Regions from separate parts of the Homo sapiens genome. Here region 1 is reported to be linked to region 2. The links are microRNA targets in miRTarBase. Many come from high-throughput screens and were not tested one by one. Region 2 holds a microRNA gene; the other region holds the end of a gene's coding sequence. Distances are between the middles of the regions.

Evidence for each region. Region 2 holds the annotated microRNA hsa-miR-4768-5p (AUUCUCUCUGGAUCCCAUGGAU, at 8,110-8,131, opposite strand). A microRNA usually pairs through its seed, bases 2 to 8, with sites in the 3' UTR of a target mRNA and lowers its output. Matches are read on the target gene's strand: a 7mer-m8 pairs with bases 2 to 8, a 7mer-A1 pairs with bases 2 to 7 and ends in A, and an 8mer does both.
Region 1: the mRNA of CMC4 is a reported target of hsa-miR-4768-5p. Seed matches in the 3' UTR shown: 7mer-A1 at 5,643-5,649.

Annotation. Positions count from the first base shown.
Region 1 is chrX:155,055,982-155,066,651 of GRCh38, forward strand. CMC4 (C-X9-C motif containing 4) reads right to left here. Exons shown (of 3, transcript NM_001018024.3): 2 at 7,985-8,052; 3 at 5,641-6,010. The coding sequence starts at 8,042. The coding sequence ends at 5,862. It overlaps FUNDC2 (FUN14 domain containing 2), which reads left to right. Exons shown (of 5, transcript NM_023934.4): 5 at 1-4,323. MTCP1 (mature T cell proliferation 1) reads right to left here. Exons shown (of 5, transcript NM_001018025.4): 2 at 9,925-10,076; 3 at 9,638-9,808; 4 at 9,505-9,556; 5 at 8,053-9,418. The coding sequence starts at 10,029. The coding sequence ends at 9,509. Among named protein-coding and RNA genes, the nearest start is that of CMC4, 9.8 kb to the right of the region's middle. RefSeq lists enhancers at 1,287-1,788, 1,453-1,747.
Region 2 is chrX:17,422,717-17,434,019 of GRCh38, reverse strand. It overlaps MIR4768 (microRNA 4768), which reads right to left and starts at 8,139; the gene lies at 8,066-8,139. All of the region lies in intron 1 of NHS (NHS actin remodeling regulator), which reads right to left.

The DNA of each region.
Region 1 (10,670 bases), 140 Mb from region 2:
TGGATGTGTGGAACTTTACAGAAACCACCTATTTGCGTTTTTCTCCTTACATTTAAGGAAACATAAGCCATTTTGCTTGCAATATGTATGAATCATCTCAAAACCATAATGGTATGAGCCTCTTTGCTGCATATTTTGCTATAAGAACTTATTTTTTTTCACTTTTTATTATGGACGCTTTCAGGAATATATAAAAGTAGAGAATATAGTACAATAATCCCCCTGTGTATCTATCACTCACTCACAACAATCATCAAATTATAGCTCTGCTGGTTTTTACCAGTTATTGTGAAACAAATATCAAAATGTCATTTTATCATATTTCAGTATGTATCTCTAAAAGGTAAGAATTATTTCTAAAAATCATAAATACCTCATCATATCAGACATTAACAGTAATTACATAATATCCAAAATCTGATCAGTGTTCAAAATTTCCTCAAGTGTTTTATATTTAGTTTGTTTGAATCAAAATTCATGCAAGGTTCACATCGTATTTGCATGATTTGGATAAGTCTCTTAACCTTATAGATCCTCCTCTATTTTTTTTTTTTTGCTTGCTATATATTTATATCTCTATATATATTGATATAGACATATGTAGTGACACTGAGTCATCTGTTTCCTGCTTCCCCACACTCTGCCTCTCCTGACATCTGGGTCTCTGGGTTATGCCATATATGGTGATAGTGGCTGCAGCCACTTTACCTGTGTGACTTACCCACAGCAATGGGATGGTAACAGCAAAGCTAACCAAAGTGCTCTGTGCCCCTTTGGGTTGCATGTGGGGAGACTGGCCACCCAATGCCTCTCCAGTGGGGTAGGGGTTGTCTTTTGGTGCATCTGTTTTTCCTGTGATTATTGGTGAGGGCAGCAAAGATTAGCAGGTGGTTGTAAACTACCTTGAGTAGGTTGTAATAAATAGTCTGGCCTCAGACTGTATTCTGATTGTCTGAATTAAGATCTGTAGGTAGGTCCCTCCTGAAGTTTTTTCCCAGCTGGCTGCCTCTACGACTGTGAGGGTCATGGTTGAGGTCAGTATTGCAGGTTGGCCTCATCCTGCTAGTATGAGAACGGCTGTGAGTTCTGCCCACGGTGTGAGGCCACTGTGACCACTTGGGATTGTGCAGAGCTGGCATGGAGGTTGAACACGCACAGCTGCACACCTTGTTTTCAGTTTAGCTGAACCATCGGTGAAGGAGGCTCAGGCATTTGGGGTTACCTGTGAATCAAGGCCCTATTGTGCCAGCAGTTTTGTTTCAGGTGGTGAAGTGGGAGTTAAGGTTTCCCCCAAAAGAACAGCTGCCACTCCTCCATGCAAAACCGAGATGATTCAAGGACCAGGCAGCTCCACCTTTCAGTGCACTACTTTCATTTGACTGGAGAGGCCTGCTTAGCTAGGCACGTATTTTCTCCAGTAGCAGAGTCCAATGACGCTCTGGACTTCCTAATTAGTGGTGGTGGGGCGGAAGTTTTTCCTTGGGAAGAGCGTTGTCGCTGTATATGGTCCGCAGAAACTTGACTTGGAATGTGTTCGGGGTTTCATCGCCCCCTTGTGGCGGCGACGTGGTAACACCGCACTCAAGGCTTCCAACTTGTCAACCAATAGGATGGCATCTACGTAGTGAAGGCTTCCCTTCCCTTGTCCTGCAGCGTGCTGGACAGTGTCCCGGCTCAGGGACCCCTTCTGTCCCCTTCCTGGCTACTATGGGTCGGCCCTGCGTCCTCACCACTTTGAGCCACCCTTTGACCCAGCGTCTCTCCCGCAATGGGACCTGGTGGGATGGGGACTTGGAGCATGCTACAGGAGAGGTAGAACTTTTGAGTCTCTTCTTCCCAAGGTTCTCCCCAGAGTCGGAGAGCAGAGACGGATCCAGGGGCACTTTCTGGCCGCTGCCTGCTCGGGCTCAACAGATGGAGTCCAATGTTTCAGTCTCCCCCAAGAATGTGTATCCTCATTGCTGACACGGGAGCTGGGTGCGGGGAGAGATGTGGTGGTGGGGACCCTTGCCTGAGCAGCCCATTGTCATGAGTGTTATTGCCATTGTGATAATATGTTAGCATGACTCTCCTCCCAAATGGCCGCTTGTTTGTTGCAATCTCCCGCCACTCAGCCTCCAGACATTCATTAACAGGACAGTGGGGTTCTTGACTCCCCTACCACTGGGGTGACAGTCCTTGCTACTGGATCTGGGCAGTTACTGTCTCATGGATGCTGGCAGAAGACGATTCAAGTTGGCGGACTAGATTCTACAAGGAATGATCTCTTGCATAATTCTAGCCAACATGCTCTTGGGGTGGGTGCTTCTGGTTTTGGAAAGCAAAGTTACTGTGTAGTTAACAACTATTGTGGTAAGAATAGTCTCTCCATCATTCTTTTGTTTCACGGTTGTCAGAAAGATGGGCATAACTAATGGTTGGGCTCTTATTTGGAACCTCTACTTTTGTACAGTTTGGGAATCTCTGCTTGAAAAGATGGTATACTGATGGATTTGAAATTTCTGAGTATCATCAATGTTTCATGATGATCTCAATTTCTTCTCAGAGGGAAGCTCACAGCCAGTTTTGGACCCCAGAGAAAAATGTGGCTGCTGCCCTCTACTCCCTCTACCAAATTATCAGCTTCATTTCTTTGTCATGAAATCTAGTATGATTTCTCAGAAATCAGGCCCAGAACTAAAATACATTTTCTGCCCAATTTTCTAAGAGGTCACACTAACATCTGAGTAATTGGGCAGAAAACCTATTTTAGTTCTGAGCCTGATTTTTCTAGAAGTCATATGGTATAGCTTATATTTCCGATGCTTGCATTCTTTTTAAGGGGTCATGAATCTTAATACTTTTTTTTTTAAAAGAAAAGTGTCGCACTTTTTCACATTTTTATAAAGCTTTAAAGTCAGTTTACTGACTTTTCAAAAGTGTCTACCTTTTTAAATTTTAAAATGGTAAGAAATGACATTCCTGAGAGCAGTGGCTTTCATCCTTGCTTGCACTTGGGAATCACCTGTGAAATTTTAAAAACTACTAATGCCTGGCTCTCATCCTAGAGATTCTGATTTCACTGGTCTGGAGTGCTGTTCAGGCATCCTGAGGTTTTAAAGTGTCTTAGCTTTTTCTAATGAGCAGCAGAGACTGAGAACCACTGAAGTACACAGTTGGAAGCTGGTGCTGAAAAAATTAAGAGTTTTGCTGTTAACTCCTTAAGAGGGCTTTAAAGCCTTTTATATTAAGTGCCATACAACTTCAGATGCCTTCTGAATACTGAACACAAGTGTAATATTATAGTTCATTAAATGTCTTAGGAATCGTGTGGAGTGAATGCAAGGAAAGGAGTGACAAGATATCACCCCACAAATGACTTACCCATTACGAAGGGAAAACTACCTTTCTAGCTAAAAGGTCTGTCAGTCACTAACCAAGTGATTAAACTTAGCATCACTAATAGCCAACTTAACAAAGTTTTTTTTTTTTTTTGGTTTCTAAAATGGGAGATCATAGTTTTCACCTTCCTAGAGTTCTTTGCTTAAGACTGAGATTCAGTGTTACTCTTGGTCCCTAACAATAAGAAGCACTCAGTAAATGTTAAGCCTTCTATGATGGCTATTTTATTTTTTTGTATGTCATAATAATACCTAAGAATAAGAAGAGTTAAATTAATGTCTTCAAATGGATTTGTTGACTTAAACTGACACAATCCTTTAAAAGAAGGAACTGATTTGAACCTTTCAAAACTGAAAGAAAGTCGTATACTGATACAGTTTGGAGCCACCGAATGTCATGTTGAACCGTATTCCCTAATGGAGGTGGATCCTGGTGAGAGGTGATTGGATCGTGGGGGCCATCCCCTCTTGGTACTTCACTCATGATAGTGAGTTCTCATGAGATCTGGCACTTCACCCCTCACTCTCTCTTGCTCCTGCTTTGGCCATGTGGAGTGCTCACTCCCCTTTTGCTTTCTGCCATGGCTGTAAGTTTCCTGAGGCGTCCCCAGAAGCCCATCAGATACCAGTGCCATGCTTCCTGTACAGCCCATGGAACTGTGAGCCAACTAAACCTCTTTTATTTATAAATTACCGAGTCTCAGGCACTTTTTATAGCAATGCAACAATGGACTAATACATATACTTTAGCATAAAAACATTTAAAAGAGTCTGAAACTGGAGTAGTTAACTCAGTAAAAATAACTTGGCAATAAAACACAGAAAAACAATCTATTTGATCATGTAGTGATTCCTAATGTAAATCCTAGTACAACTGTCAACTGATAATTTTAAATGTAATTTAGATTTGTAGATGGTGTAACATTAAAGTTGTATGATGTTTTATTGTGTTATTATTAACACAAGACGTCATTTAAATTTCATGGGGATTTAGCTCTGTCACTCTGGTTTGTGGACCAAACGTCTCTAAGGCAGCATTTCTTTAAGTCGCTCTGGAGAGCATTCACACACAGAGATGCTGTCTGCAAAACAGGTTCACTTAGGTTTTTTGAAAGCTCTGAAGTCTGACAGGAAATTAACCTGTGTACTTGTATGCAACCTAGCATTCCCCAAACTTACCTGACCAGAGAAGCCTTTTTTTTTTCTTCCGGTTACAGCAATTCCTAGAAACACTTTGAGTAATGCTGCTTTAAAGAAAACAGTTGGTCTCAAATAATCATGGTATTTTAACATCAGGGACCTAGCAGAAATTGTTCCTGCTTTTAGTCATCTTTTTCTTTTTTAGAGGACAGCCTTTGGTGGTTCAAGCATCCATTTGAGGAAAGCAAATGGCCTGTTGCATGCTGCCTCCTCCTACTTCATAAAGTGACTGACAGCTGTCAACAGGCTTCATTCAGCAGCTTTGTATTAATGTTGTCTGGATCCTCTGTAACAGGTTTTTATTATCAGGATATAAAGAATAGATAAACCAACTAAGTTTGAATTATCTTGCTGCCTACCTGACTTCCAATGAAAATTTTTTCTTCAGTTCCTTCATGATAAATTAAGGATCATTAAGCATTACAAGAATCATTTCTATGCCTTTCCTACCTGGTTAGTCGCTGCAGTGGGGATGCAAAAGCAGAAAGAAATGCTCTTACTGGCATCTGGAAAGACACTTTTTGCTCTGCATTTTTGGAAGTACAAAAGGTAATGAGTTAGTTTAAAGGAAACTTTGAATTAGTTTAGCATGTAATCTATAAAAGGTATCAAAATTGGCTCACGCCTGTAATCCCAGCACTTTGGGAGGCCGAGGCGGGCAGATCACGAGGTCAGGAGTTCAAGACCAGCCTGACCAACATGGTGAAACCCCGTCTACTAAGAACACAAAAATTAGCCAGGCGTGGTGGTGCATGCCTATAATCCCAGCTACTTGGGAGGCTGAGGCAGAATTGCTTGAACCCGGCAGGCAGAGGTTGCGGTGGGCCGAGATCGCACCATTGCACTGTAGCCTGGATGACAGAGTGAGACTCCATCTCAAAAAAAAAAAAAAAAAAAAAAAAAAGGGCGTCAAAATTGTGATGCTGGAAGTGAGTCCTTTCACCTAACATACCTCATATGACTTAAATTTGATGAATGGCACTAGTGGCTTGAACTTCAAGAGAATTCATTAATACCCTATATCTAATAGTCTTAAAATACATTTAGTACAAAACCCAAATTTTTCTCTTAAACAGGTTTATTTTAGCAGCTCAGTATATTACATTCTACATATTTGTCTTTTAATGTGTTTATATTTCTGCCTGTTCTGCATAGATGGCATATTCATTAACTTTTGTAGCTGACTTTTTCATTTGCTATTTGCTGCTACCTGGCCTGAAGAGTCAGGAGGATAAAAAAAATTCATTTGGTGGAAACATGGAGCAGCACTTCAGAAGAACTTTACTTTGATGCAGACTTCCGTGTTAGGTTTTCTTCCTCTTCTTTTTCAAATCCTGAACAGACGACAGATCTTCCCTTGGGATACTGAGCACAACACTTACGCAGTTCTTGGATGACAGCCTGACACTTTGATTCCATGTAGCTGTTGGCTGAAAAACATACAGGCAGACTCTAGTCATGATCTCATAGGACTAAGGTACAGGGAGGTTTAGATCAGTGCTTCCCACCCCTTTTCACTTTCAGTACCTATGGAACTGGAAGAAAGAAGATATACCAAAGTCCACTGAATTCTTTCTAATTTAGAGACCTGTCGACAGGTTCGTTAGGGAAAGTATGATTTACAAAGTGGTTGAAAGCTATTTTAATATATAATTTCCTTTAAGGTTAATAGCATGTATGCACCTTTTTCTAGGACATTGGTTTTTAACATCATTTTTATTACTGGTCACTAATTTGATGAATTAGGAAAATGCACATACACCACACATTATTTTGCATACAGTTTAAGCTGATTGTTGGACCTCCCCTACTAAGGCTGTGCATCAGGAATTGGCAAACTGCAGCCTTAGGGTCAAATTCAGCCGGTTTTTACAGCTGGGAGCTAAAAATGGATTTTAATTTTTAAAGGGTTGTAAACACACAACACATACACAATATATACAACAAAGGCCTTTGGCCTCCAAAGCCTAAAATATTACTTGTTTGGCCTTTTTCATAAAACATTTGCAGATCCCTACTATACATAAACACTAAGTTAAGGAGGACCTGACCTAAAGACTCTAGGTCAGCTGCAGTTAATGAGTCCCCCAGTACTAAAATGGAGTACATGGTAGTTAGCTCAGGATAGGAAAGACAATTCTGATTAGAAAGGCAGTATAGCAAGGTGGGTAACAGTCCAGATTTGGAGCTAGACCAAGGGCGGGGTTGGCGGGGGGTGTTCAAATTCCCACCATACCTCTTACTAGCTATGTGACCCTAGTCAAATTACATAACTTGTGTGTCTGTTTTCCCCTTTATGAAATGGGGGTCATAGTAGCATCTACCTCATGGATGAAAGGCTTAATACGTATAAAGTCCTTATAACGGTGCTTGTCATCTTTTAGTCTTTCCAGTTCTTAATCCTCCCACACTGCCAAGGGGGTGTCACCAGCTCTTTTTAACTTATTTTTTTCCCTTAGCTATGGGTTATTTCAAACAAGGTAAGGTTTTATTTGGGAGAAGGAATTAAATGCAAAAAACTTTTTCCTTTTCCTTAAAGTTGGAGGGAAGAAGTTTGACTAAAATGGCATTATTATACATCCAGATTTTAATCTAAAAGATTTTATAAAATATTGCTAACATCAAAAAATGAAAAGTCCAAGAATGAAAGCTAAAAGTCCAAGGAGATACACAAACAAAGGATTTCTTTGGTGGTGAATCTTTGGGGGAACTCTGAACATTTTTCCTTCATACCTTTCTATATTTTCATGACCTTCCATCTCCATCTATTACTTTACTAGTGAGGAAAACTTATTAAAATTTTTTCAAATTCAGATAGCCTTATAGCTTTTTCTATTTGCTCTTCTGGCAACAGTCATTCACTGATTAGAAAACTAAAATCCTCTAACATTTGGTCAAACTTAGCAGCTGGACAAATGGACAAATCACCTCAAATATGCTTTAGTCGAGATTCACTTCTGCCTTTAAGAGTTAGTTGATGACTTTGGCAGCCTGAATTCCAATTGTTATTTCAACCGCACCTCTTCCAGATTGCTTTTAAAAAGTGAATTGTCAGCTGCAGTGAAGTATAACCAACCAATTTAAAACTAGCCTTTTAGTAAAAACAAACAACAACAACAAAAAACCCTTTTTTTCCTAGCCCTAGCCCTAGGAAGTCTGAATTGTTCTAGGTAAGTGTTTAAAGATCTCCAGGTGATGCTAATCACCTGGAGTGAAAACCCCTAGCTTTGATCACATTACTTTTTATTTTCTGCATCTTTGATGATACAATGAAGAGAATCTTCAGGATAATTACATATACGTTACATTCTTAAAAAAGAGTTAATACAGATAAAAGAATAATTGGTCTCTTATAGTTAGTTCACAGTGGAAAAATATTTTTAAAGCATTTTACAATATACTACCTTGTAAACATTTCTGTATCTCACAGGCTTGCTTCTGGCACGGATCCTTCTGCGGCATATCCAGAAAACTAAAACAAGAAAAATGATTTTTATTTTTCTTTTTTCCATAAAGACTTTAAAGCCCCTCTACGTGGAATTTTCTTCTGAGACAAGCAGTATATGCCCTTACAATTGCTGGAAAATAATTACACTAAAAATACTCTTCCCAAACATAGGATGAATCAACTGTATTTTTATAATATCCATTTCATTAGGCTTGGAAGATATAAATAGCTTTACATGGAAAAAAAACCTTGAATTCAATCAACTCTTTTTGAATACTGTAAACCAACGTTAGGCTAGAGGAGCCGACGGCGCAGCCTGGCTCTATCATTCGCAGAAGAAACCCTTGATAAATGATTAAACTCCTTGAGCTTTTTTTATTACTCATATATAAAATGGGAATCATACCTACCTCAAAGCATTGACAGGAGGATTAAATGTGATAAAGTATATAAAGTACATACAATAGTGCCTGGAAAGGACTCCAATACATGGTAGCTATTATTCCCAAGACTTTTTTTTTTAAAGTAAAACCTTACTTTTAATGTATATAAACTGTTATAACTACTTTAACTCAGGAAATTCTTTACAAGTAGTAAATGTTTTCCTAGGAATCAGCAATATTTGGTGTTATTACTTCCTGAGAAAGGTGCCAGTTAAGCAGCTAAAATGGTTTTTCTTGAAGTTCTTATAGAAACCAGCTTATTTAAAATATCTGTAATCAGAGAATGAATTCAAGAGCCCACAATTTTGATCAGCAACTTCCAGTAATTTGAAGACACGATTTCAGATAGAAAAAAAGGCCCACAAGCCTTTGTAGCTAATTTCATCAATGCATATCTCTTTTCAGAGCCCTCTAAATACTCAGCAGATCCAAATTAGGTCAGTACTGGGATGGGAAACACTGGAGCAAAACCTAGGATATTTACAGGATGGGAGAAGGAAAGGCAGGTGAATTGCTGCAGGGCAAATAAGCGACAAATAGATGTTGATGCTGCTAGGAGCTGCTCTCTTCTCTCTAAATCAGTACCAAGTCCTTGGTGATCAGGGCATCTGTTCTGTAGAAGGTGCTGACTTTTGTGGGATTCATCAGATCCCAGGTCCAGCCGATGATGTCCATTAAGGGTTCTATGGCAATTTCCAAAGGAGTCAATTTCAAGTTACGGATCCTGACTAAGTGCTTTTGTTGACTTGCTTTCTGCCTACGTAACCTCTCTCTGCAGTTTCACTTGCAGTATTCTTCATGACCCTTGCTAAACTTCTGTTTCTTGAGCAGTTTTTCAACCCACTCCCTCCCCCCAGGCCCAAGGGTGGGTGCACTGCAGTAGTGGATGAAGTGATTGCCAAATACTGAACAGAACAAAGGAGCATATCTTCGTAGAATCCCAGCACCTGGAAAAAAAAATCATTAAAATCACCACAACTGAATAGAGCCAAAACAAAGAGGGGGAGGACAGAGGAGAAATAGAAATACATACCAGGTTAGTCATCAGGCAAAAGCTTAAGCAACAGCTCCTGTACTCCCCTGACCTGTCAGAAAAAGAAAAGTTTATGGAGTACTCTGTTACGAGAGTCCCAGTACAATGGAAAATAATTAAGCAACATGTGTACCATTAAATGATGCTGTATCTGCCACAAGCGAGAGTTGTTATCCATGTAGCGCTCCTCCGGGTAGAGTTGCCACATGAGAGGTAGCTGGGAGGTAAGAAGGTGACTTGGCCTAGCTGCGTCACCTAAGGGAACCTGAATTTGCTGGACTCGTGCCCTTAGGAAACTCGTCTCCTAATGGAAAGGAATGATCAAAAATAAAACCAAAGACTTCAGAATATTGAGACTGGAATAGAAACCAAGTTACTTGAAAGCAAAATCAAAGAAATAAGCAAAATGTAAACAGTTACCTCTTCCACGACGGCCACCCACGTGCGCTGGTATTCGTCGCGGTAGATACCCTCTTGGTGAACCCAGAGGTGATCGGGTGGAGCCCCCACATCCTCTCCTGCCATTCTGGGCTTTGGGTTCCAATTCTAGCCCTGCTTTTCTCCACCTAAGCCTGCAGCACCCGCGCACAGGACACAGGTGTGACTTTTTGGGTTTGAATGAACTCACCAGTAAGCAAGGTGATCTGGTACTAGCAACCACTAACCAGAACCAAACCTCATATGTCTATTTGCACAACCTAAATAGAACCAAGGACATCTGAAGCTTTCTGCAAGACAACTAAAGTGACACTCAGGCAGAGCCTCAGGTAGTGCTGCTGACTGCAAAGCGCTCAAGAATTTGGCTAGGTGAGGAGTTCTGTGGAAATGTAGGACTAGCACTACAGGAAGCTGGGCAGTGGTCTCACACATACTGCATTCACAAGCAGTGTCTGGCAAAATGTAGTTAGCAATAGAATATGCAAAGAGCGTGCCTAAAGACACACTTATTTTGGCAGGAAGGCAGTATAACAGACACATGCATGTCATATTCCCCAGGTAAAAGCCACTTCCAAGCAGTTTCCATTTTAAAAGGTAAGATTCTGAAGGACATATATGCATGTCTTTCAGAGTTGAAATTAAAAGTTTGTTTTAAGGGCAAATGATCTATTTATCAGTTTACTAAGAAAGTTTACAAATAGCGGATGGGCATTTCTAGAAGGGGATTT
Region 2 (11,303 bases):
CAAGATGGAAGAAGCCTGGGTTCTTGAGTGACCATATGTAGCCTAGCACCCTTCTCCACCCGCTGCTAGCCCACATTGGTATGAGTGGGAAATAACACTTATTGGGTTAAGTCACTGAGGTTTGGGGATGTTGTAGAAGTTAGTTTATCGTGGATAATATACATTTTTTAAAACTGCACCAATTTACCAAAACTTCAGGGTACATATAATCCATAAATTCAAAGGTCAAAGTGAAGAAAAATCACCTTGAACCACTCCATATTCCTGTTTTTCAGGCACACAGCTTCTTCCCCTAGAATATGTGTGAAAGAGTTCAGTAAAACTTACTTCTCTACTTTCCAGTTTGGTCAAATGTTATCTGATCCTAAACCAAGTGCAGGGATCCTTTCAGGTGCCAGTTGGCATCCATCTCCCTTTGACCTGCCACCTTTCCTCTAGGCATCCAGGAAGGAGCCTGGCCTGTGTGTGGACTAACTCTGCTCTGATCTGTTGGACCACCAGCCAAGTGACTTCTCATTCTCTCTAACCAGCCATGCCCTAGAATAGGCAGGCCCAGCTCCCCACTAGACAACCACAGCATTTCCAGCTATGAACCAAAGAAGCACAGCAACAGTGACTAGCTTCCAATCCCAGAACTCAAGTCAAATATTCCATTATTTTTCAGACAACCAAGGGGCTTTGTGAGCTTTTATTTAAAAGGGGGAGCACTATGGGAGGCCGAGGTGGGCAGATCACAATGTCAGGAGATCAAGACCATCCTGGCTAACATGGTGAAACCCCGTCTCTACTAAAAATACAAAAAAAAAAAAAAAAAAAAAAAAAAGTAGCCGGGCGTGGTGGCGGGCGCCTGTAGTCCCAGCTACTCGGGAGGCTGAGGCAGGAGAATGGCGTGAACCTGGGAGGGAGAGCTTGCAGTGAGCCGAGATTGCGCCACTGAACTCCAGCCTGGGCAACAGAGCGAGACTCCGTCTCAAAAAAAAAAGGGGGAGCAAAAATAACATTTGAAGGAATTCAAAGAAGAATGAAACCTATGTATTTTCTGAAATTGTTGAACTCCAATAAAACTTTAATATCAACCTGTTCTTTGAACTGAACTCACATTTTTATTTATTTTGAGTCTCTGGCTCCCACTGTCGCCCACCTCTTCAACTTTTACCTTTATCACTTCCTTTAGGAAAACAAAAAAGAAGGCAACATGTCATGAAATTGTTAGAGGGATACTGTCTCTGCATGCATATGTCTCTGTGTTTGTGTTCGGTTAATTAAAAAAAAAAAACACCTAGCAATTTAATGGTTTAAGAACATTGTTTCCAAAGGGGATGAATTATTTACCAAATATTTATTGCCCTCCATGCAAGTCCTAACAGGAAATACCAAAACAATTGACCCAGGCACTATTATCCAAGGGCTGACCTTCTGGAGAAGGGGTTGCATCTAAAGCATAATTAGCTAAAATAAAGGTTAAATGTAGAAAACTCCATAAAACGAGGTAGAGGCAAAGTGATATAAAAGCATAGAGGAAGAGTGGATTGCTCCCAAGTGGGAAAATGCATTCATTCAACAAATATTCATTCATTGTTCATTCAACAAATATTTATTGAGTATCTATTACATGCTAGGCACTATGTTTGGTACTGTGTACAAAGCAGTAAGGAAGACACACTCAGGCACAGCTTCATAGAAGAGATGGTATCTGAGCAGGGCCAACAGCCATGAGTGGACAGAACATAGGATAAGAATAACAACAAACACAGCTAAGCACTGACTAAGCACCTTTCTAATATATTACATTTGTCAACCTATTTAATCCTCCCAACAACCACATGAGGTAGGTAGTATTCTTATTTCTATTCCACAGATTAGAAAAGTTAAATTGTTTGTCCAGGGTCACACAAAGCTGTGTTTACCCCCTGGGTAGTGTAGCTTCATAGCTGTCATCCTTATCCACTATACTCTAAATCACGGATGGTCTTGAATTCCAGAGCAAGGCATTTCAAGTTCAGTCTTTGCCAATGGTGGGAGCCACTGCTATACATGGGATGAAGACACATAAATGAAACTGGGAGCCTAAACCTGCTGGTAGTATAAGTCCAGGGAGGTATTCTACCCCAAGTTCAAGTAAGTTCAACAAAATGGGAGAAAATTGTTCTATGTGCTCCAGGAACATAAGTGACGAAGCTCTTAGTTGGCTCTGCTTGCGTCATGGAAATCCACACCAGAAGGCCATTTGTCAGTGAAATTGCACTAAGACCCTTTTGTCATTTTACAATTAAATCCCCTGGGAAAGTGTTCTCATATGGAAAGCAGAGGTTTAACATCAGCCTGATCTGATATTAAATTCAGTATTCTGTTTTAAAGGTACTTTCCCCTCAGTGTGCCATGCCCCTCACCATCACTACACACACTCCTCACATTCTCCATGGGATAGATGAATTATTGGAGTCCACCAAGCATCTTACTACACTGTTGAGTTTAGGAAAAAGCATACCCCTTCAATCACAGCCAGTCACAGCACAAATAACAGACTATGCAACTAAGGACCAAATTAAAGGGGGCTGGCAACCACAAGCCTACAACTTGGGCCATTGTTTGGGGAAATAAACCTAGGAAAGGCAGTTCCAGATGAGACAGCAGCTAACCAAGCTGAACAGCTGGATTTTGTTCCCCACAGATACAGAGTTGACAGTCCACCAAGCACTCTAGTGGGTCATATTTCGTAGGAATCCCTTATGAGAGGTTAAAAATAAAAAATCCTAGTTCTGGCCAGGGTCACAGACCCAGGAGGGCCAGTAGTCTCTGGAAAATGAGGCCTCAAAGGGCTGAAGAAGATAAACTTGTTACACTCATAAAAATGGCACTGCCAGCCTGGGCACTGCTGAGATCCATTGATGTCTACCCCATAAGAAGTTATTCTCCCTACCTTTCCTAACTTCAGACCTCATGGGACAATAACAAGTCAAAAATGCATAATCTATTCCTCCAAGGGTTAAACATGGAGTTATCATATGACCCAGAAATTCCACTCCTTAGGTATATAAGAGAAGAAATGAGAACATATGTCCACACAAAGACTTGCACACAAATATTCATAGCATCACTATTCATAATAGCAAAAAGGTGGGAACAGCTCAAATGTCCATCAATGAATAAATGGACAAATAAAATGTAGTATATCCATAGAATGGAATGTATTTAATCCATAAAAAGGAATGAAATACTGATACATGCTACAACATAAATGAACCTTGAAAACATCATGCTAAGGGAAAGAAGTCAGACACCAAGGATCACATATTGTGTGACTGCATTTATATGAAATGTCCAGAATAGGCAAATCTTTGAAAACAAAAAGTACATCGGTGGTTGTCAGAGGCTGCGGGGAGGAGTAAATGGGGAGTGACTACAAATGGATGTAGTAATGGCTACACAACTGTGTGAATACACTAAAAACCACTAAACTGTACGCTTTAAATGGGTGAACTATATCTTAATAAAGCTGTTATTTTTAAATGTTTTTTAAAATAAACATTTTACGCTATAAATGTTTAGCACCCAATAAATAAGGAAAGAAAGAGAGAGAGAGAAAGAAAGGAAGGAAGGAAGGAAGGAGAAAGAAAGGAGAAAGAAAGAAAAAAGAAAGAAAGAAGGAAAGAAAGAAAGAAGAAAAAGAAAGAAAGAAAGAGAAGAAAAAGAAAGAAAGAAAGGAAAGAAAGAAAGAAAGAAAGAAAGAAAGAAAGAAAGAAAGAAAGAAAGAAAGAAAAAGAAAGAGGGGAGGGAGGGAGGGAGGGAAGGAAGGAAGGAAGCAAGGAAGGAAGGGAGGGAGGGGAGGGAAAGAAGGGAAGGAAGAAGGGAAGGAAGGAGAAAGAAGGAAGGAAGGCAGGGAGGGAGGGAGGGATGGAGGAAAGGAAGGAAGGAAGGAAGGAAGGAAGGAAGGAAGGAAGGAAAAATATGTGCATAATCTGAATCTGAGATCATTTTGGGTGTTCATAGCCATGAACCTCTTTCATGAGGCTTGCAGCCTTCAGCCAAGTTAACCAAAGTGGTTACAGTGAGGGGGAAAAGGCAGCAAGTGCTGTAGGTCAAGCTGCAATGTCAGGCATGGAAGGAGGAGACTGGGCCCAAGGGTCCCCCAAACAGCACTGGTGAGAAGTTCCGTGATGCCACCTAGAGAACATTCTCACCACAAACACCCAAAATGATCCACATGGGGTAGAAAAATGGGAAGGCCATTATATAATTATTAATGCTAACAGCAACTCAGCAATAACCTGACCCTAGGATCAGAGTCAACAATTTACTATGGGCCACAGCTCAAAGGGGACAATAGCTCTCTCTGCACCATTCTTTTCTAATGCATGGATCCTGGGTTTGCCTGATCCCCCCAGTGTGGGAACAGCCACAGGATTCCAACGGCTGTTTTCTCTCCATCAAACATTTGCTTATTTTTCTCATCTTAAGTCTTGTGATTGGTAGGACACATGCCTAACAGACGATAAAAGATTCCGTGCATGTGTGTTTCAGACAAAAAACAGAATTAAATTATAAGACTGGCCTAAAAACCAATAAAGTTCCCCTTCTTCAATTTCTCCAAAGGTCTTACTGGATTTTGATACCCAGCAAGGGTCCTCAGACACCTTGGAATTGCCCGCAGGAATACTTGATGACGCCGTGGATCAAATCAAAGAGAATTAAACATTAAAGCACTTGGAAAACATTGCAGGTCTGCAATGGTTTGATCTGTATAGCGCGCGCGCACGTGTGCACACACACACACACACACACACACACACACACATCCCCCAGTACACACAGGCAGATGCATCTTTTCTTTAGCAGACTTCATTATCCTTTCTTTAGGAACTTCCCCCCTAATAAGGAGTTGATTTCCAAGGATAACATTGGAAGTTGCTTGCCATCCCTTCTTCTGAAAATCTCTATAGAATTCCACAAGTGTGTGCGTCTTCGTTATCAACAATGACTATTGTTGTCTCCATTGGTCATCTCAACATCACCAATGCCTGGTGTAGTGCCTGATGCGCAGTTGGATTAAATAAATATTTGATAAATTTAATTGCAGTTGGAATTCAAGAGGAGATGAGGGAACAGGCAAAAGCTTTGGTTGTGGTGAATTGGGGCTTAATGACTCTTATTTATAAACACACACACACAGAGAGAGAAAGAGAGAGAGAGAGAGACATGTGCATTCAAGGAGATAAAAAGGCTGGAAACCAGGAAGTTCCAAAAGGGCATTAATTGATTCTCCAACTCAACTTTCTTAAACTTGGGCTCACCTACCACTGGGGTCCCCAGAGACTTTCTGGCAGTATGTAGGTATATGGATAGCTTTAAGAGATTCAGTTTCCATATTTTCTGCTTCCATATGCATGCCTCCCAAAGCTGACCTGCCATCTCTGTGGCAGCTCTGCTTCTCCATATTCCCTTTTTCACAGCTGCCTTCCTCCTCCTTTAATAAAGAAAGGGAAATTGCCCACCTATTCTCAATCTTATGAGGATGCATTTTCCTAAGGAGTAAAAATCTCCCCAGCCCCAAACCGAGGTATCATTTGAGTCAGCATCACTTTAGAAGGAAAATTCCCAGGGCAAAGAAAGAACATTTCAAAAAAATTTGAAGGCCACAGTGCCATATTTTATTCAGGCAACAAATTCATAGCACAGCTTTGTGCCTTATATATCTATCTGGCCAGCCAGCTGCCTACTTATCCTAAAACCAGAACTCAGAAGGATGAAGATTGGCCAAGTACACATGTTAACACATTCACCTGAATCAATGAAGAAACCCCTTTCTTTATACTGACTAAAAGTTAATCTGGCTTGGCTGATGGTTTGACAATAAGAAATGACTTTGCAGTTAGGTCACGTACCCTGATCTAATAATTTTTTCATAAATTGAAAGGTTTTAATGAAGATATACTTAAAGCATGTATATGATATACACCAGTGCTCCTCAGACTTAAATGTGCATGTGAATCACCTGGGAATCTTATTAAAATGCTTATTCTGATTTAGTGGGGCTGGAGAGAGACCCAAGATTCTGCATTTCTAACAAGCTGCCAGGGGATGCTGATGTTGCTGACCCGTGCATCAGACTTTGAGCTGTGAGAATACACAATGTGCTGGAAAATATACTTTTGTGATGAATTCAACTTACGATTAGAAAATTCAGATATCAAATGTAAAATACACAAGGGGTGCTTGATTTTTTAAAAAATATATTCTTAGGAAGTATTCCAACAAGAAAAGATGGTAGACCTCCAATGTGGGTCACAGCTGGCAGTCTGACCCCAAGAAGTTTGAACCCAGCCTCTATTATCTGTGCAAGACAGAACTGTACTTCTGCTTTGGAGTTAATCCCAGAAGAATTTATTTCTTTTCCAGCCCTTCACATAGCTTGTGCTTTATGGTGGCAGACTCAATGGACCAAACCTTCAGCTGTGGGAATCATGGCTTCAGCCATTGAACACACACAGCCCAGTCAGCTGGCAGAGTGGACAATAAACCTACAAACACTCAGCAAGTCACTCAGGTTCTTGATTCAAGAGTAAATGGCTTCATAAACACAATCATAACAACAGCGGCATGAGTTGGTGCATGTCAATGTGTACATTTCGGTAGAGAGGGCCCAGAGACACGTATTTTGGCAGATGCTAGGTCTTGGCAAGACTGTAAGCAAAATCACAAAGCAGCCCAAGTCTGTGGTCAGTCCCAACTTCCTATCAGTACACCTTTTCCATCCAGGCACCCCATAAAGGTGGATTTGGTCTCTTCCACATTCCATTAAGTGTAGCCTCAATTCCCAACAAAAACCCACACCACACCTCTTTTAAGGAATTTTATAGGAAAACTTTACCTAAACATGTATCCCCAAATCCTCTGAACTAGCAAAATCCTATTCAGGTTTATCTCCATGTCAGAGAGATGGGAAATATATCAAGTTCTGTCAGCAGGTCAGCCAGGCCGAGCATGCCAAGTGATCTGGGGTTATAGACAGCAGATTAATCTCAAAGCTGGAACTTCTTTAAGACCAGGAAGTAGCCCCTTTTCTGATTAAAAGACAAGTCAATAATTCTGGGTCCTTGGTCCACCACTGTGATATGTCCCTTGCAAAACAGGCACTCTCAGGCAGTCTTCCCTGCAGAGCAACCATGATGGATACTGACTACTGACTTGAAAGTGCTTTGACACCCCCAGATGGAAGGAACTAATCAATTATGCTTCTCACTTAGAGGCACCCTGCTCATTCATGCTGAAGATAGAAGTCCAGATAAAAGTAGAATTACTGGGAGTCCAAGATCCAGAAAGAAAATGAGAGAGCTCAGCTGGTCACTGTGAATGATGTGCATGTGCCCCAAGCCTTTGAAACACATGACATTTTCCAGCAGCCAAGCACTCATCAAATTGCAGAATGTCGAAGCTACAAGGAAACTTAGCAATTATTTAATGATCTAAATTACTTTTATTATAGTGAAGAGGAAGCTGAGGCCTAGAGAGGTAAAATAACCTGTCATATAGCTGAGCAGCGAAAGGAACAGACTCATTACCCTAGTGATCTCCTGTCACACAACCCATCTCATGAAGCTCTCTCTCAGGTCGAGTTTAATAGATGAGAGAACAAGGGGTAGTCTGCCTATGCAAAGCAGGTACACACAATGAGATCAGAGCAAAGGGGATTTCCTCCCCTGAAGCTAAACAGCCCCCATAAGTGATGTTACGTGTTAGGATAATTTCCTTGGTGTGCTGGAAGATGTTTCACAAGCATGGGTGGTGGGGACCCTTATTTGCCATATTTGCCAATTTCTATAGTGTAAATACTCTCATCATGGCAGATTTCAAGCTACCAACTTGATGCCACTGAACAGCAGTTGGGGAGAGATATGTGCAATCAGCTCTTGTGAGCTGATAGAAGCTGGATCCTCCACACCACTGGAATTTCTGAGAAGTCTACATCACGGGTTTAGGAATGAAATAACTTTCTGGCCCACAAGAATAAAACACCCAGGTTTATGAGGAAAATCCTAGCAGCACACACTCTAGGTTTCACTCACTGAAACTCTGATTCTCTCTGGATCTCCTGGACATCACAGTTCCCATATCCATGGGATCCAGAGAGAATCAAAGTTTGGAGAAGTTACTTGGTCCATCATGTCTGTATCTCTGGGTAGTATCCTACCTAATTGATCCAAGGCAGGAGCACTGAGAGGTGGAATCCACATTCCCTATCTTAATGCTTTTGGCAACCAAGCATTCCTTTCCCAGCAGTAACAGGATCCAGTTTCCAAGGTGATATGTGAGCTCAGAGCCCCATCTTTACCAACGTCAAAGGCAGTGCTTGGATTCAGCTTCAGGTAGGCCTCCTCTGTTCATGTAAGCAGGAAGGAAAACATGTAAAACTGAATTCCTCCTCAATTTCTTTCTTTCTTTCTTTCTTTCTTTTTTTTTTTTTTTTTTTTTTTTTTTTTTTTTTTTTTTTTTTTTTTTTGGCTGAGAAGAGTTCCAAGGCTGGGGCAGCAACTCATCAGGAAAAGTTCTTAGCCTGTGCTTTCTTTTTGCCAAACATTGATTTGCTAATAGAGAAAATAACTGGTGTATAAACAAAAGTGGTTGATGACATCCAAGGGTCTGGAGCAATTCCTCCACATCGTTCTGACAGCTAACAAATGGAACTAGCTCTTAGGGAGCATGTTTAAGGAACAGCTGGAATATGTAACGGACATTTTTCTGTGAATTTGACAGGTCAAGCTCCATCACGGTTGAGCTACGCTCACCGGACGTGGATCAGAATGAACTCTGCCATTCCTCAGAAGGTTGCCAAGAGGGCTTTGAAGAGAAGGGAATCCAAGGAACTCAGTTTCAGACATGGAGAAGAATAAAGACCAGACAAATCATGAGCAAACCTGATTTAAAGAGAAAGATCTATAAATACCAGTTGCTCAGCTTTCTCCCTGGTTTCCTGACCCTATGATGAGCTCCACCAAAATTAAGTAAGTATAGCCCTTTCCAGAGGGTCACTTGGAGGGAAGATCCTGCCATATGTCGCCTATTGGTCTTTAGCCTCACCACCACCCCAACATCTGATAAAGTCAACAGACGTGAGTTCCTAAAGGATACAGAATATACAAGATACTTTCCCTTATACAAGGATTCACTCTAAGCATCGTTAAAATGGCAAACTCACCTGGGACCCCTAAGATAACCTGATTTACCAAAATCTGGTTTATCCTTAGCATATGAGGAGCACATCCATTCTCTAAAGCAAGGAGATTTTCAAGATCAATGAGCAGAGAAACTTCTCAAAAGAATTTTATAGAATTTTTTAAGATAACAAGCAAACTAACAAATGATTGAGTAAACCTGGTACTATTCCTTTTCTTCTTCCAAACTCAAGGGAGTTATTCCAAACAATAACATACCTAGAAAAGAACCTGTGAAGATTGCAAGATTATCTAAAGAAGCCACCGGGGCAAGAGCGGTGGACATGCTTCTCCACACGGCCCTGCACCCAGACCACTCATTGTGAACTCCACCCAAATGCATAAACCTTTGGGAAGCAAAGGATGAATTGATTAGCTGCAATCTGTAGGCCCAATCAATCCATCTCCACACTGTAGGGACCTGCACAGAATCTCTCCTTAAAGTCTAGTCTTTCATGAGGAGAAATTCACCTCATAAAAGACATGATCAGAAGACATGACAGCCTGGAGGAGCAAACTACTGCTAGGTCAGTGGAAGTTCTCCTCCTGTTTGTGAAAGTGAGGAGAAAAGCACAGAGCATTTGTCCCTCAGCTTGTCTCCCTTGCAGTCTTCTCACTTATTATAATTCAAAAATTACCTCCATTTCAAGGAATCCTTCTCCTTCAGAGCTTTCAGCTCAAGGTGGCCTGGTTTGATCTCTCCTGACACCACTTCCTCCCTCCACCCCAAAGTAGATTAGGATCACCTTGGATAACCACCAGAACTTGATGATTAAAACATTCAGAGCAAAAAGATCTTCAGAGGTCATGCCAACTGATAAGCCAAGTTAGTAGCAAGGCATAAAATAAGGCATTACTGTCTTTGTTCTGTGCTGATCCATGCATTGTCCTACCTACCATGCCAGCACTTTGGTCTGTGAAATATGCAGAAAAGGCAAGAGAAACACAACTGCTGACAAGAGGATGAGGAAAGGAAGAGCACTTCCAGCAGGCATTCGCTGCCTTGCCTTAATACTTAGCACTTCCACAAGCCTTTTCATCTTCAAAGCACTTGAGGAACACTAGCTAATTAATCCTCCCAACATCCCTGCAAGGTGAGGAAGGATTATCTCCATTTTACAGATGGAGAAATGGAATATTTTGAACACAGGCATAAAACCCAGTGACAGATAGAATTGCCAGAAACTGGGCTGGGATCCTTCCTGGTGTCTTTGATGCCCACTCAAGCCTGCCAAGGTATCTCATCCCCAACCTGAGGACTGCCAAAAGCTCCTAACCAGGATCTAGCCGAGCAGACAGAGGGCCAGAGGCAAGACAGACAAGGCTCTCATGCTAACCCTTCCAAGTCTCTAATTAATTCATTATCTCACTGGACTGTCTGGTTAGGGGAGGCCTCTTTTGAAGCTTAGATGGAGGAGGAGGAGATGCCTGCTCAAGTCTTCTTCTAAGCAATGATTCGATATTCCTCTCTTATATCTTCACCCTGGTTGATATTTTAAACCATTGATGAAGACAGCACATGCAATGATAGAAATCCACATTAAATCCTTCCTGGAACCAAGGCAGGTTCTAAACAAATACATGAAAAGCCATTGGCACAGTGCTTTTATTATTCAAGTTTTCTCATATTTTGAGACAGGACTTTCTCTTAATCAAACATCAGCTGCAAATGCCAGTTGGAACCCTGATCAAAACCTCCTAATTAAATGCAGTGTAGGAATTTCATGTCTATCCCAGGCCTATTACTCAAGGCATGGTTCCAAACTGTGGTGGTCTTAGAATTTCTTGGATTTTTCAAAACGTCTAAAAATCACTTGGAGATTCAGACTGCTAGTGCATTTTCAGAATTGCCACTTTGAAGTTTGACCCAGTTACCCTGTCAGTAGCTATCATCAAATCTTACCAATTTCTACCTTTTTTTCATAATATTACCCACCCCTAGAAATGAAAACTGTGTGCTTCACTCAACCAAGTACATAACAAATAAAGAACTTGGAGCCCACCTTCCCTACTCGTCCAAAGTGTCTCATAGGTTCTTCTTATCAGAAAGTACCCAAAAAAGTTTGTGAAATAAAATGTAGAAAGCAGTGGCAG